2 separate regions of the Homo sapiens genome follow, and region 2 is linked to region 1. The links come from fine-mapping of genetic effects on gene expression. A gene starts in region 1. The other region holds a variant in brackets. All regions are shown on one strand. Distances are from middle to middle. Region 1 holds the start of TMEM38A (transmembrane protein 38A). Region 2 has its middle 24 kb from the start of NWD1.

Region 1 (5,368 bases):
CACACACACGCTCAATTAAAGAGAAAACTTGTGGCTCACGCCTGTAATCCCAGCTCTTCGGGAGGCCAAGGCAGGGATCACTTGAACCCAGGAGTTCGAGACCGGCCTGGGCAACGTGGAGAAACCCCATCTCTACAAAAAATACAAAATTTAGCCTGGCATGGTGGCACACACCTGTAATCCCAGCTACTAAGGGGGCTGAGGTGGAAGGATCACTTTAGCTCAGGAGGTCGAGTCTGCAGTGAGCCATGATCGCACCACTGCACTCCAACCTGGACAACAGAGCAAGACCTTGTGTCAAAAAAAAAAAAAAAAAAAAAAGAGAAAGAAAGAAAACGAAGGTAGGGCTTGGCGAAACAGAACTGTCCTCTGAAGTGGACCATGCAATTCCAGGATCCAATTAGACCTTACCTGTGCTGGGCTCCCTGGACTCCTCCCCAAAGCCCTGCGTGTCCTTCTTTTTCCTACAAAGAGGAGCAGACAGTGTCCACTTTCAATGGGACATAGAGTCCTCAGCCCCCTGACCCCCAGCTCAGAAGGCCACAAACACTAAGTTTCAGCCCTGGCCCTGCCGCAAACTTGCTGTGTGACCTCTGACGTTCAATACCCTTCTCTGGGCCCCCACTGCCCGGACAATCACAGCCAGGTCAGCAGCCACCGACCGTTTACAAAGTGGCCCGACAGTGCGGGTGCAGGGCGGAAGGTCCGCGGTGGGGCTATTTCTTGGGGGATGGGGCTTAAGCTCTCCAGGAAGGTGAACAGAGGGACAACCAAGGAACGGAGAGTATGGGTTTAAGGTCTCTCGGGGGGTGGGGGGCGAGGAAGATAAACCAGGCTGGAGGCGTGCCCAGAGGGCGGATAGGGCGGGGCCTGCGGCTTGGGGGCGGGGCCTGAGAAGTGCGCCGAGATCACGCTTATGAGGGCGGGGCTACGGGTTCCCCGGATGGAGCCGCAGTCCGGCCGCGACCTACTCACAGCTTAAAGTTCAGCACCGCCCCGGCATTCATCAGCAACGTCCTGCAGAGGGAGAATTACAGTTACTAGGGGCGCCCCCGCGTCCTGCCTGGCTCTCTCTTCCCAGCCTCTGGTCCCCCTAATTACCCGAACAGCAGGATGTCTCCGATCATCGTTACGGCCGAAGCGTCCGTCAGAACCGGAAGCGGAAGCCCCAGGGAGGGAGGGGAGAGGAGCACAAGCCGACCAATCCTAAAGCAACAGTGGCGAGGGCTGGGCCAATCGAAGGTCAAGGCTGGGAGGGTCCCGCCCTCTGCAGGCCAGACCCCCTTAGGGGAGCGCGAGCGCCCCACCTCGCTGGGGAGGCCCCGAGAGCCAGAATGGGAGGAGCGGGGTCTCCTGGGGGCGGGATTGGGTCACGCGTTCGAAGCGTGCCGCGCATGCGTGAGGTCTCGATGCCGTAGGGTTAGCTGGGCAGCAATTCCTACTCACTTTCTGGGGTCCCAAATTGGGCTTCTGGACAAAAGGAATCCTTTGACTCCTGAGCTGCACAGGGTGCGGGGTCCTGACGCAGTGGGGTCCCTAGAAACGGGTGCCCCAACCAACTGGGCTCTAAAATGAGATCCTCCTGGGCCCCATGGGGAACGGGGGTTCCCACTGAGCTGCCCCCCACAAGACGTCCTGATTTGCAGAGCCCCACCGGAGACGGGGTTCCTGATCGAACGGACCCTATGGGGCAGAAAAGTCTTGACGGGGCTCCACAGAGGACCGAGGTCCTAACCTATCTCCACGGGGAACAGGGGTTCTGATTCATGGGGTCCCACCATGGCGTAGGGGTCCTCACTGGGCTCCACCGAAGATCGGGGTCCTAATTGAGCCCACGGGGACAAAGTCCTGGCCGATCCGGCCCCCTGGGAACGGGCGTCCCGCGTGGGTGGGCTCCGTGAGGGACGGGCCCCCAGAACAGGCAGCTCCCCAGCCTCCCTCGCCTTGCACGGGTGCCCCGCACCCCGCCTCGCTGGGCGGAACGGGGTAGCGATGGCAGGAGGGTCAACGCCTGGGACGCCCGACCGTCCAGCTGCGTCCGTGGTGCTGGGCGTCCCCACCACCTGTCCCGGGGTGGGCCGTCGCCCCTCCTCTCCCGCGGGGGCCGGGCCTGGGGTGGCGCCTGGCGGGCGGGGGCGGGCCCAGCTGCGGGGGCGCAGTCGCCGGGCCGCGGGCGGCGGGACGGACGAGGCCGGGGCCCCGGGTGGCACCCGGCAGGCGGGCAGGCGGGCGCCATGGAGCTGCTCTCGGCGCTGAGCCTGGGCGAACTGGCGCTCAGCTTCTCGCGGGTGCCGCTCTTCCCCGTCTTCGACCTCAGTTACTTCATCGTCTCCATCCTCTACCTCAAGTATGAGCCAGGTGAGCCGGGGCGGGGGGCTGGAGGGGACCGGCAGCGGGTGGCGCGGGCCGGGGCAGCTCGGGGGTCGCAGAGAGGGGAAGCCCGTGCGTGGTGGAGGGAGCGAGGGACAGGTTCAAGGATTGCATCGTGGGAGTAGGCAGGCGCTAGAATCGTGGGGTTCTCTCACGCCGGGGTGAGCCCGGGGGAGAAGCCCCCAGGACGATGAAGCTGGGGGAGGGGAAGGAGAGGCGTGCGCGGGTTTAGAGGAGGGGGAACAGGTGCTTGGGGTCGGGGCTCCTGGTTGGGTCAGAGCTGCAGGAACTTGGGCAAGGGGCGCCGGCTGTGGCGAGGGTGCAGGTGGGGGTCGGTGCATCTGTTCTGGCCGCGCGCAGGTGTGACCTCCCTCCTTGACCTTGGCACGCGGATTGAGAGCGCCAGCGGAGTGTCTATAAGGGCCACTGCGCTGGGGGCTGCGGTCAGGTTCAGCGAAAGTGACACCGGTTCTCCTCCCCACTGCAACTGCCCAGCACCCTCCACTCCCCTCCCTTCCCCCACGGTGCTGAATCTCCGAGCCCCCACGGGAATTCTTCCAGCCCTGGCTCCAGATCCTTTCCACTTACGGAGCAGAACCGGCCCCAAGGCTGGGTGACTTGGGGTCAGTGTCCTCCATCTCAGCTCCAGACTCCACGCTGGGGAGGTCACAGGAGGGTACAGCCTGCTTCTTAATTTTTAAAATGAGGATGAATGGCTTCCTTAGAACGTGTTCTATTTTTATAAAAGGTTCACCGTGAACAAATGTTTAAATGTTTCTTGTTCACCGTTATTCTAGAACACCAGCAACTTACTAGATAATAGATTTTAGGCTTAGAAAAATAAAGGAACCCCAAACTTCATAAGCCTTTCTCCCACTTAGATGTAAATTACCACTATAGCTCAGAAAGGAAATAGCTTTATTCTCAGAGGATAAAAATAAGCGCCCCTGTTTACTAAAAACTCAAACTGAAAAGGGCAAAGGAAAAAAAGAGAATTACTGTCAACATACTGGTGGCCAGCCACCTTTCTTGATGTCTCTTCTATTCATTTACGGCTATATAGTTATAAACGTAAATGCACGCTTTTTTTTTTTTTTTTTTTTTTGCGGTTTTTTTTTTAGATGGAGTTTCGCTCTGTCGCCCAGGCTGGAGTGCAGTGGCGTGATCTCGGCTCACTGCAACCTCCACCTTCCAGGTTCAAGCGATTCTCCTGCCTCAGCCTTCTGAGTAGCTGGGACTACAGGCACCCGCCACTACACTTGGCTAATTTTTGTATTTTTAGTAGAGACAAGCCTTCACCATGTTGGCCAGGATAGTCTCGATCTCCTGACCTTGTGATCCACCCACCTAGGCCTCCCAAAGTGCTGGGATTACAGACGTGAGCCACTGCACCCAGCCAATGCACGCTCTTATGCTAACAGGATTACACTCTATTTGCTAGGAATTTTTATTCTATTTTTGCCTATCCACATGCCAGAGCCTATTTTCTTAAAAGCTATCCTGGAGAACATTACTTTGCAAAACAAAATAGGCTTTTGTGTTGTCCTAGCATGAACATGGGGCTATCTTTCCTTTCTGGGGAAGAATTCTTGGTGGTTCAGGCCAGTTCCTTGGGCAGTTGCAGAACCTTAGAAAATCTGAAACTGGCTGGGCACAGTGGCTCACGCCTGTAATCCCAGCACTTTGGGAGGCCAAGACGGGCAGATCGCCTGAGGTCAGGAGTTCGAGACCAGCCTGGCCAACATGGAGAAACCCCGTCTCTACTGAAAATAAAAAAATTAGCCAGGCATGGTGGCACATGCTTGTAATCCTAGCTGCTTGGGAGGCTGAGGCAGGAGAATCACTTGAACCTGGGAGGCGGAGGTTGCAGTGAGCCGAGATCACGCCATTGCACTCCAGCCTGGGCGACAGAGCAAGACTCTGTCTCGAAAAAAAAAAAAATCTGAAACTGAGGAGGGTTGGAGCCCTGTGGGAATGTAGGACACAAATGTCTTGAGAAAAGAGGTCTCCAAGCTGCCTGGGAACTTGCAGGAAGGTTCAAGATATTTCTGCAGAAGTCCTAGAATAAGCCATCCAGGCTCTAAGTGCCAGAGCCTGAAGGTTCCTGAAGGCTGAGAAGTGGTTCCAAACCCTGGCTATTCATGAATTCATGAGACGCTCCTGGGAGCTTTTTTTCTTTTCTTTTTTTTTTTTGAAACGGAGTCTCGCTCTGTCGCCCAGGCTGGAGTGCGGTGGCGCCGCCTCTGCTCACTGCAAGCTCCGCCTCCTGGGTTCACACCATTCTCCTGCCTCAGCCTCCCAAGTAGCTGGGACTACAGGCGCCCACCACCATGCCCGGCTAATTTTTTTTTTTTTTGTATTTTTAGTAGAGACAGGGTTTCACCGTATTAGCCAGGATGGTCTCGATTTCCTGACCTTGTGATCCGCCTGCCTCGGCCTCCCAAAGTGCTGGGATTACAGGTGTGAGCCACTGCGCCCGGCCTCCTAGGAGCTTTTAAACCCCCTATCTCCACCCCCCACCAATTGAATCAGAATATTAATCTCCCCTCCCTCAGTGACTGATGTCTGTTATCAGGGCTGAGGATACTCCACCCAGTTCAACCTCCTCCTTTCATAACTGGGGAAACAGGAAATAGTGGCTAAGCTATCTTAAATACACAATGAGCCTGTGGTCCCATGGCTGGTCAGTTGCAGCCTCGGGACTCAGCCCAGGTCTGCTTGACTCTAAGAATCAGTACAATTGATGTGAGATTGGTTTCCTTAGAAAAGAAAGGTGTTGGAGGCCAGATGTGATGGCTTATGCCTGTAATCCCAGCACTTTGGGAGGCGAGGCGGGTGGATCACTTGAGCCCAGGACTTTGAAACCAGCCTGGGCAACATGACAAAACCCCGTCTCCACTACAAATGCAAAAAAATAGCCAGGTGTGGTGGCGCACGCCTGTAATCCCAGGTACTTGGGAGGCTGAGACATGAGAATAGCTTGAATCCAGGAGACGGA
Region 2 (5,368 bases), 35 kb after region 1:
CTCCAGCCTGGGTGACAGAGCAAGATTCTATCTCCAAAAAAAAAAAAAAAAAAAAAAAAAAAACCAAAACAAAACAAAACAAAAAACAAAATGTTAGCCTGGCACAGTGGCTCACCCCTGTAATCCCAGCACTTTGGGAGGCCGAGGTGGGCAGATCACTTGAGATCAGGAGTTTGAGATCAGCCTGACCAACATGGTGAAACCCCAACAAGGTGTAATTTTGTAAAAATACAAAAATTAGCCAGGCATGGTGGCACCTGCCTGTAATCCCAGCTACTCAGGAGGCTAAGACGGGAGAATCACTTGAACCCAGGAGGCAGAGGTTGCAGTGAGCTGAGATTGCGCCACTGCACTCCAGCCTGGGTGACAGAGCAAGACTCCGTCTCAAAAAAAAAAAACCAACAAAACAAAAACACTATAAGTTAAACATAGGGTGGTCATGGGTGACTCACACCTATAATCCCAGGGCTTTGGGAGGTGCAGGACGGAGGACTGTTTTAGCCCAGGAGGTTGAGGCTGCAGTGAGCTGTGATGGTGCCACTGTACTGAAGCATGGGTGACAGAGCAAGACTCTGTCTTTAAAAAAACAAAAATGTGAATAAATGAACAGCTGTGCTCCGCCCATAGTATTGCCTACTGTTCAGCGAAAAAAAAAAAAAGGCGGTGGAGGTGGTGAACATGCAAAAACATGAATGAGTCTCGAATGTATCCAGATTGGTGGGAAAAAGCCATACAAAAAAGAATGTGTAATATAGGCATCCATTTATCTGAAATCCTAGAAAAAGCAAACTATTGTAACAGAAAGCTGATCAGCATGTGGTTGGGGAAAGAAGGACAGGGTAGGGCAGGTGAGAGGAATTTTGCAGTGGCACCAGGAAACTCGGGTGATGGATCTGCTGATGGCTTTGATTGTGCTGGTTTCTTGGGTCTATACCCATGTCTGAATCTATTAAATTTTACTTTTGGGTTTTTGTTTTGTTTTGTTTTTTGAGATGGAGTCTTGCTCTGTCACCCAGGCTGGAGTGCAGTGGCACGATCTTGGCTCACTGCAACCTCTGCCTCCTGGGTTCAAGTGATTCTCCTGCCTCAGCCTCCTGAGTAGCTGGGATTACAGGTGCCCACCGCCATACCTGGCTAATTTTTGTATTTTTAGCAGAGACAGGGTTTCACCATGTTGGCCAAGCTTGTCTCAAACTCCTAACCTCAGGTGATCTGCCCGCCTCGGCTTCCCAAAGTGCTGGGATTACAGGCGTGGGCCACCGTGCCTGTGCCTGGTCTAAATTTTGCTTTGATTACTTAAGATTTAAAAAAAAATTAACTTTTTTCTTATTTATTTATTTAGAGAGACAGAGTCTCGCTCTGTCGCCCAGGCTGGAGGGCAGTGGTGCAATCTTGGCTCACTGTAACCTCTGCCTCCTGGGTTCAAGCAATTCTCCTGCCTCAACCTCCAGAGTAGCTGGGATTACAGGTGCCCACCACCACGCCTGGCTAATTTTTGTATTTTTAGTAGAGACGGTTTTGCCATATTGGCCCGGCTGGTCTCGAACTCCTTGCCTCAAATGACCCACCTGCCTCAGCCTCCCAAAGTGCTGGGATTACAGGCTTGAGCCACCACGCCGGCCTCTTTTTTATTTATTTTTAATTAATTATTTTTTACTTCTTTTTTTCCCACTCATTCAACCTAAGTACTTAAAAGTTTTCATTTTATATATGCATAGTTCATCTATCAGTTATGCCTCAGTAAAGCTATAAAAAAAGAAGCTTTCAATTATAAGGAAAAAAAGTCTGGGCATGGTGGCTCATGCCTGTAATCCCCGCACTTTGGGAGGCCGAGGCCAAAGGATCACTTGAGCTGAGGAGTTCATGACCAGCCTGGCCAACACAGTGAGACCCAGTCTCTGCAGAAAAAAAAAAAAAAAAAAATTAGCCAGTTGTGGTGATGTGAGCCTGTAATCCCAGCTACTCAGGAGGCAGAGGTGGGAGGATCGCTTGAGCCCAGGAGTTCGAGGCTGCAATGAGCTGAGATTGCACCACTGCACTCCAGCGTGGATGACAGAGTGAGACCCTGTCTCATAAATAAATGAATAGGCTGCAGTAACATACTCCAGACAGAGTCGCTTAAGCCACAGACATTTATTTTTCCCTAATTCTTGAGGGTGGAAGTTTGACATCAAGGTGTCAGTTGGTTTTGTTTCTCAAGGCCTCTCTGCTTGGGTGGCAGACGGCCGCCTTCTCTGTCCTCGTATAGTCTTCCCTCTTCGTATGTCTGTATCCTAGTCTCCTCTGCCTACGAGGACACCAGTGAATTAGATCAGGGCCCACCTATAGACTTTTTTTAAAACTTAATTATCTTTTTTTTTTTTTTTGAGATGGAGTCTGGCTTTGTGGCCTAGGCTGGCGTGCAGTGGCGCCATCTCGGCTCACTGCAACCTCCACTTCCCGGGTTCAAGTGATTCTCATGCCTCAGCCTCCCGAGTAGCTGGGATTACAGGCACGTGCCACCATGCCTGGCTAATTTTTGTATTTTTAGTAGAGATGGAGTTTCACCACGTTGGCCAGGCTGG[T/C]CTTAAACTCTTGATCTCAAGTGATCCACCCACCTCAGCCTCCCAAAGTGCTGGGATTACAGGCATGTGAGCCACCCTGCTTGACTGACTATTTTAACTTAATTGTCTCTTTAAAGACCTTATCTCAATCAGTTTGGTGCTAAAAAAATTTAAAAAAAAAAGACCTTATCTCCTGTTTTAGTCCTTTCAGTGTGCTACAACAAAATACTATAAACTGGTGGCTTGTAAACAACAGAAATTTATTTTTCATGGTTCTGGAGGCTGGGAAGTTCAAGATCAAAATGCTGGCAGATTCACTGTCTGGTAAGGGCTGGCTATCTGGTTCACAGATGGTGTCTTCTTTTGGTGTCCCCACATGGTAGAAAGATCAAGGAGTTTCTTGGGGGCCTCTTGTGGAAGGGCACTAATCCCATTATGAGGGCCACATCCTCATGACCTAATCACCTCCCAAGGGCCGCACCTCCTAATACCATCACCTTGGGGCTAATTTTGGACTCAGGTGATCTTCCTACCTTGGTCTCCCAAAACAAAGGGATGTGAGTCTCTGTGTCCAGCGTCCTTTAAGGATGGATTAAATTAAAGTAACTGACAATGCCTGGTGCAGGTAAAGATTTGGGGGCAGCTGGAGCTCGCACACTGCTGGTGGGAGACAATTGGACAGTTTCTTTTAAATTTATTTATTTATGTATTTATTTGAGATAGGGTATCACTCTGTCATCCAGGCTGGAGTCCAGTGGTGCAGTCATAGGTCACTTCAGCCTCGACCTCCTGGGCTCATGTGATCCTCCCGCCTCAGCCGCTTGAGTAGCTGGGACTACAGGCACACATCACCACATCCAGATAATTTTTGTATTTTTTATATAGATGATGTCTCGCCCTGTTGCCCAGGCTGGTCTGAAACTCCTGGGCTCAAGTGATCCTCCTGCCTCAGCCTCCCAAAGTGCTGAGATTACAGGTGTGAGCCACCTTGCCCAGACTGATAGTTTCTTATTAAATTAAACATCACTTACCCTATAAACACAACAATCCCTGATAGTTTCTTATTAAATTAAACATCACTTACCCTATAAACACAACAGTCCCATTGTGGTGAAACAAAAATTCACCTATTTTTTTTTTTTTTGGTAATCACCAAAAACTGGGAACATCCCAAATGTCCATCAGTTGGTAAGCGGATGAGCCACCTGGTTTATGCATGTGATGGAACATTACACAGCAATGAAAAGGAGTGACCTTCTACAGCAGTGTGGTTGAATCTCAAATGCATTTGCTAAATGAAAGAATCCAGACCCAAGAGACTGTGTGCTCCCATTGGCGGGACATTTTATCTTTAGAGATGGGGTATTGCTTTGTCACCCAGGCTGGAGTGCAGTGGCAGGAACATGGATCATTACAGCCTCAAATTCCCAGGCTCAAGGGATCCTCCCGCCTCACCCTCCTGAGTGGCAGGGATTGCAGGTGCGTGCCACATACTCGGCTGTAGGTCATTTTAGAAATACAAAATTTTGGGCTAGGTGCAGTGGCTCACACCTGTAATCCCAGCACTTTGGGAGGCCGAGGTGGGTGGATCATTTGAGGTCAGGAGTTTGAGACCAGCCTGAAACCCTGCCTCTACTAAAAATACAAAAATTAGCTGGGGGTGGCAGGTGCCTGTAGTCCCAGCTACTCAGGAGGCTGAGGCAGGAGAATTGCTTGAACCCAGGAGGCAGAGGTTGCAGTGAGCTGAGATCGTGCACCACTGCACTCCAGCCTGGGTGACAGAGCGAGACTCCGTCTCAAAAAAAAAAAAAAGAAAAGAAAAGGAAAGACAAAATTTTAAGTATAGAAAACAGATCAGTGGCTGCCAGGAGTTGAGATGGAAGGAGAGATTATCCACAAGAGAGACAGAGGAATTTTGGGAGGGAAGGGACTGTTCTGCATTTTTAACGTGGCAGTAGTTACACAACTGTATATGTTTGTATAAACTTGCAGAATTCGCCCGGCAGCGTAGCCCTTTTGGGAGGCTGAGGTGGGAGGATCACCTGAGGCCAGGACTTTGAGACTAGCCTGGGTATCATGGTGAAACCCCATTTCTGCAAAAAATACAAAAATTAGCCGGGCATGGTGGCATGTGCCTGTAGTCCTAGCTACTCAGGAGGCTGATGTGGGAGAATCACTTGAGCCTGGGAGGCAGAGGTTGCAGTGAGCCGAAATTGCACCACTGCACTGCAGCCTGGGCAACAGAGCCAGACCTGTCTCAAAACAACAAACAAAAAAACAAACAACAAACAAAACAAAAAACCCACAAAGAAACACTACAAAAAAAACCTTGCAGAATTTTGTGGCTAAATTCTACCTTAATCTAAAAAGAAAAGGAAAAAGAGAGCAGCCTTTGGGGTTTCCCAAATCTGTTCAAATCCTGTCTTTGTTTTTTTTTTTTTTTTTTTTTTTGACAGATTCTCACTCTGTTGCCCAAGCTGGAGTGCAGTGGTGCCATCTTGGCTCACTGCAACCTCCGCCTCTCGGGTTCAAGTGATTCTCCTGCCACAGCATCCCGTGTAGCTGGGATTGCAGGCAAGAGCCACCATGCCTGGCTAATTTTTGTATTTTTAGTAGAGTCAGGGTTTCAACATGTTGGCCAGGGTGGTCTTGAACTTCTGACCTCAAGTGATCCTACCCGCCTCGGTCTCCCAAAGTGCTGGGATTACAGGTGTTAGCCACCATGCCTGGCCAAACCCTGGCTTTTAATCTCCGAGATACGTAGCTTGGGCAAGTAACTCCCCTTCTCTGAGCCTCAATTTCCTCTTAGGATGGCTAGGAGGAGT

What was found. PIP is the estimated chance that this variant, and not a neighbour inherited with it, causes the effect. A credible set is the group of variants that fine-mapping cannot tell apart.
Region 2: its variant is the best candidate, but not a certain one, in a credible set for the expression of TMEM38A in sun-exposed skin (GTEx, PIP 0.78).

Annotation. Positions count from the first base shown.
Region 1 is chr19:16,658,984-16,664,351 of GRCh38, forward strand. TMEM38A (transmembrane protein 38A) reads left to right here and starts at 2,156. Exons shown (of 6, transcript NM_024074.4): 1 at 2,156-2,358. The coding sequence starts at 2,235. SMIM7 (small integral membrane protein 7) reads right to left here and starts at 1,161. Exons shown (of 5, transcript NM_024104.4): 1 at 1,102-1,161; 2 at 976-1,017; 3 at 412-464. The coding sequence starts at 1,127. RefSeq lists silencers at 1,754-1,953, 1,974-2,223 and an enhancer at 2,509-3,317.
Region 2 is chr19:16,693,597-16,698,964 of GRCh38, forward strand. No RefSeq gene overlaps it. Among named protein-coding and RNA genes, the nearest start is that of NWD1, 24 kb to the right of the region's middle. The variant T/C (reference allele first, on the strand shown) is at 2,565.